Linked DNA regions of Homo sapiens: region 2 is linked to region 1. Evidence: fine-mapped expression QTL. Tissue or cell type: whole blood. Region 1 holds a variant in brackets; the other region holds the start of a gene. All regions are shown on one strand. Distances are from middle to middle.

Region 1 (2,678 bases):
TAGTCCAAACCCTTTGAAGCCTGCAGCATGAGAATTAGGACTGGGCATCATTGATGGGGTTGGACTGAGTTGAGGCATTAACTGTAAAATTCTGTTTCTGGAACCCATAGGCACACTGCCTTGCCCACACTGGAGATTCTCCCCAGTCTGCATGAGAGGAGATGGGGTAGAACTACAGCTTGGAGACTGAACCACAGAGGCAGCTGGAGAAGGGTTAGAAATGGGGCTGAAGTTCTGGTGAAACTGCATGGGGGACCTCACAGGAACCTCAGGCTGGTTGTACTGCCCCACTTGGCTTTGCAGGGGCAGCTTGGTGGCAGCGTTAGTATACTGCATCACATGCTGAGAAGGGTGTTGTTGTTGCTGCGGTTGCTGCTGCTGCTGCCCCTGTTGGGTCCCTTGTGGAATCTTTGCCTGTTCAAAATTCTTCATAGATTGAGGCTGATAGCTGTAATTGGATTGTGTTCCATAAGCCTGTGCATTAGAACCCACATTGTGTCCTTCATACTGAGATCCAGCATTCACATTGTAACTGCCATCATAGCTCTGTCCAGACTGGCTAAAACGCTGTGGTGAAGGGAAGGAGGAGGAGGAGGAGGAGGAAGCAGAAGACTGATAGTGTTGGCCAAACTGACCCACTCTTAACTGGTAACCAGCAGCAGAGGATGGCAGAGTTGAGGGCCGCTGCATTGGCTGTAGATGGGATGAGCTGGATGCTGGTTGGCCAGTGGCCTGTGGCAGGGGCTGATGGGACTGGTAAAGCTGTTGTCTCAACTGCTGGACTTGCTGCTGCTGCTGCTGGCTGGAAGCCTGCTGTTGGTACTGAGCACTCCCTGGAGAGAAAGGCCCAGTGTAATCCTGCTGATAATGTGACACACCGCCAAGGCCAGAGTGCTGTGCTTGAAACTGGCCCACATGACCCTCACTCCCATACTGATTGCCAAAGCTGCTCCCCTGGGGGGGTCCATAGCTCTGCACAGGCCCAGAAGGCCTTCGCTGAGGAGGCTGTGGGGTTCCTGTAGTCACGGGGTCTTTGTTGCCTGCCATGTAGTAAAAATCTCCAGCCTCTTTCCTGAAACCCTGGTAACCTTGATGGCCAGAGGTCTCGCTAGCCATCGCTGCCGCAGCAGCTGCTGCTCCTCGTCGTCCACCACCACTGCCACTGCCACTGCTGCCACTACTGCCACCTGTACCTCCAAAATTCTGGAACATCTGGGCCTGACGAGGGCTGAACTCTTCTAGCCGGGATGAGCCGTGTACCTCCTGTGGGTAGCTTTGCTGGTTTCCGTGGTAACTGCTTTGCTCCCGAAAGGACTGCATACTGTTCAGCAGCACAGCAGCAGGCCAACAGCCCTCCTAGAAATAGAAGAAAGAAAAACATTAGACACGCATCTCCTTGGTACAAATAAAATCAAGTCTAGATGATGGAGGGAATAAAGATGAATCAGAGGCCCAGATGAAGCTGACTGGTTTGAATTT[C/G]TATTTTTTTTTTTTGGTTTTTTGAGACAAGAGTCTCACTCTGTCACCCAGGCTGGAGTGCAATTGCACGATCTCAGCTCAATGCAACTTCTGCCTGCAGGGTTCAAGCAATTCTCTTGCCTCAGCCTCCCGAGTAGCTGGGACTACAGGCGCATGGCCACCAGGCTCGGCTAATTTTTTGTATTTTTAGTAGAGACAGGGTTTCACTGTGCTGGCCAGGCTGGTCTCGAACTCCTGACCTCGTGATCCGCCCACCTCGGCCTCCCAAAGTGCTGGAATTACAGGCATGAGCCACCACGCCTGACCTTGAATTTCATCTTTTATATTTTATCCTATCCACTTCTGAAAATGCACATATGCAGAGAAATGGCCTAAAGAGTGAGGCAAGAATCTGTAGTAGAATGAAAAGCAGCACTCTGAGTGCATACAAACCCAATACAGCAAAAACATGTATGTCTCATATATCTAATAATGCCTTATTAGACAAATGAGCCCCCAAACTCAACCAGATTAAAATATGGGGCTGTGTTATTACTGTCAATGAAAAACAGCAATTTTTCAATAAGCCTCCCAGTTATGCGGGGGAGGGGGTGTGGGGTAAGAAAAACCAAATCCTTTTTTTTTTTTTTTTTTTTTTTTTTTTGAGACAAGGTCTCACTCTTGCCCAGGCTGGAGTGTGCAGGGGCACAGTCGTAGTTCACTGCAGCATCAAACACCTGGCTTCAAATGATCCTCCTGCCTCGGCCTCTCAAAGTTTTGGGACTACAGGCATAAGCCACTACTTTCATTTCTCTGCTTTCATGTATTAGGGTGATCACTGAACTGCGGGTTTTAACACTGGCTGCTGATCGCCACTCCCCAACACTGAGAAACAGACCTGGCCAGAGAACTGCAGCCAATTCCTTATGTCCAAGTGCAAATTTTTGCAGCTTTACTATAATTGCCAACTACCTGTGATGACTGGTGACTCCAGGACACTCAGCCCATATGGGTTCCACACAAACTTTGGAGTCAACCTCTTCTTGGCATATGACTGTGTCTACAGCACCCCTCTCTCCACCACTCTCCTTCAATTCCCAGGTACAAAGGGCTAGACTTAAGCCAGTGAATAGCAGTGACTATTCTTCCAGATTATTTTGGGAGGTTTCCAAGAAGTTCCAGCACCTTTACCCGCCATGTGGTATTTGTATTTGCCAGTT
Region 2 (2,678 bases), 55 kb after region 1:
AGGAAAAAAAAGCAAAAAGGAAAAGGGGGAAATCCTAATTTTGACCTGACCCCTAAGGTCAAACTAAAGGATTGAATACAGACCAGCAGACCGTATTGGTATCCGCAACCACAAAAACAGACAATAATCCCACCCACAAGCAGAGGAAGACGGCCGCTCCTCGGCACCGCCCCCCAACTCACTAAATTCCACTCCCATTCCGGCGTCCAGAGGACAGTGCACCTCCCGCCGTAGCCTGAGAGGGATCGGCCCGATTGGCCACGCTCCTTCAAACCACCACTTTCCCCCGAAAAAGGGACGAAAGCCTCAGGTCCCCAAACGAGCGCTCCCTCGCCCAGAGACCCCGGCTTGCACACCCCGCCCTGTTCCCCGCGGCGCGGGAGGAGAGGCCGCCCCACACAGGAAGTGTGTCCTGCGCCGGGACCTTGCGCCCAACCCGCCGGTACCTGCCCTCCGCCCCCAACAGGCGAGAAGCAGCCGCGTCCACATGGCTTCAGGTGTTCACATGGCAGTAAACGGGCCCCTGCTCTCCTGGGCGCCCCAGCGCGGCGCCCTCCCGCCCACATCCCGGCCCAGCCCCGCTGGCCTCGCCTCCAGCCCGTAGCCAAGAGGCGAGCGCGGCCGGTGCCCCCGGGGCTGCCAGGGGCCCCGAAGCAGGCGGCGCTGACTCCCGGACGCCGCCCGCTCACACCCGCCGCCTTTGCACCCAAGGCCTCGCGCGACCAGCAGGTAGACCTTCCCTCCGCACCCTCGGGCCAGCACCGGCACCCAAGCCCCGCCGGAACCCCGGGCCGGCCCAAGACACCTTAGCCCTCTGATGCCAGGCCTGGCCCGGGCCCCTGCCCGCACTCTTGGGTCGGGCCGGGCAGCAACACTCCCCTCAGCACCCCAAGCCCTGACTCGGAGTCCAGGAGGCTCCGCACTCCCAGGTTGGGTCCGGCCGGGACCTCTGCTCCCAGCCCCCGAGGCCGGACACCCCGGCCCGGCCCCAGTCCTTCAGGCCCAACCCTCTCCCTGCCCCTCAGGCCCGGGAGGCGGTTACCTGCAGGAGCCCCCCGCCCAGTCCCTCGGCCTCCGCCGGGGGCGGGCGGGGAGGGAGCGGTGGCGACGGCGGGCGGCGCTGCGCGGGGTGGGGGTGGGGGTGGCTCCGCCGCCTCCAGCTCGGGCGCCCGGGCCGGCGGCGGGGCGGGCCGGGGCCGCGGCCCCTCGAGGCTCGCTCCGGCCCGCGCGCTCGCTCCCCGGTCAGGCGCGCCTCAGGGCGGGCTCCCCTGGCGGAGGCCGCGGCCGCCTCGCAGGGGCCGAAAGCGGCTGGGCTCGGGGTTTTTTCTCTCCATTCTCCCAACACACAGGAAATAACAGAGCGTCAGGTGACGGCGCGCGGCCAATGGGGAGGCTCCGGGCCGCGGCGCGCGGGCGGGCGGGAGGGCGCGCGGCGGGGCGGGGCGCGCGGCGGGGGCGGGGCGCTGGGGGCGGGGCCGGGCGCGCGCGTGCCCACCCGCGTGCGGCGGCGTCGAGGCTGGCGCGCGCCGGGTAGGGATCGCGAAGACCCCCACCTCGCGGCAGGGTCGCACGGGGTTCTCCTCTGCGGCCGCTGGGCGCCGCGCGCCACCCGCCCAGTGCCATCTTGGCCTGCGCCTCAGGGCCGTCTTGGGGGTGGACGCGAGCCAACTTTCTGGGGGAGTTGGTGGCCCGGAATCTCTCTGGGATTTCTGGAGTTCCCTGGAGCCTCCAACTCCAGAATCGCGCCTCTTGCGGCCCGGGAGGTCCGCGGGCGAGGACCCGGTCTCCTCTCGGTGACCTGTTTAGTGGGGTCGGGCGTGGGGGCGGCTCCTGCCCGCCAAGAGCCCTCTGGGCCGGGGGCAGCCCAAGACCTAGCTGGTCCCGCCTGGGTCCCTGGCAGCCCCCGCCCATGGGTTCCAGGTGTCCGTGGAGGAACGACTTGGGTCCTCTCAGAGCCTCAGTTTCCACCGCGGAAAACGCGAGGAGGGAGGCCCACCTACCTCACCTGTAAAACGGACGCTCCAGCTGCCTTCTGCTGCGGCATTAAGAAGCTGCAATGCCAGGCTGACTGCGCCCAGGGTCCCGAATTAATTTGCCGATAAGGCGGAGGATTTGCGGTGCCAAGGCCTCAGCTTGTTCCCAGCCTTCCTTTGCAAACCTGATGTTTCTAAAGCAAAGGAAGGGCTTGACTTCTTTATAAAGAAAATCGCAATTGTAGAGCAACTAATATGTAGATGTTGGTGCCCCCACGGCCATCAAAAGTGACAAGGCCAGCAAGAGTAGGATGCGTTGAGAATTTGTGATCCTGCCCCTGACCTTTGACCTGGCCAAATTCTCCTCCCACTTTGGGCCTCAGTTTCCTGTGGGTGAGGAGAGTTTGGATTAGATGTCCCTAATGTTGGCTAAAATTGCCGATTCTAAATTAGGCTCCCATCTGTCCTAGATGTTAGGGGAGTATGTGGCTTCCTCTCCTGAAGCAACCCAACTTAAAAGTTGGGATTGGAAAAGTGCTTCCGGCAGCAGGTGGGGATTGTCAGGAACCAGGTGTGGTCTGGAACCCAGATTTCCATATATTTGAGGTACACAGCTTCCCGGGGCCTGCTTTTACTTTTTGACCTTTCACCCCACCTAGCCATTGCCTTTTCTCAGGCTACCCAAGGAGGGTCTCAGGGTCCCAG

Evidence for each region. PIP is the estimated chance that this variant, and not a neighbour inherited with it, causes the effect.
Region 2: TCF20 starts here. The variant in region 1 is fine-mapped to the expression of TCF20 in whole blood (TOPMed, PIP above 0.99).

Annotation. Positions count from the first base shown.
Region 1 is chr22:42,213,986-42,216,663 of GRCh38, forward strand. TCF20 (transcription factor 20) reads right to left here. Exons shown (of 6, transcript NM_001378418.1): 2 at 1-1,356. The coding sequence starts at 1,320. Among named protein-coding and RNA genes, the nearest start is that of TCF20, 55 kb to the right of the region's middle. RefSeq lists an enhancer at 998-1,497. The variant C/G (reference allele first, on the strand shown) is at 1,480.
Region 2 is chr22:42,269,297-42,271,974 of GRCh38, forward strand. It overlaps TCF20 (transcription factor 20), which reads right to left and starts at 1,357. Exons shown (of 6, transcript NM_001378418.1): 1 at 1,043-1,357. It also overlaps the pseudogene OGFRP1. RefSeq lists an enhancer at 111-170 and silencers at 501-740, 881-940, 1,001-1,150, 1,291-1,450.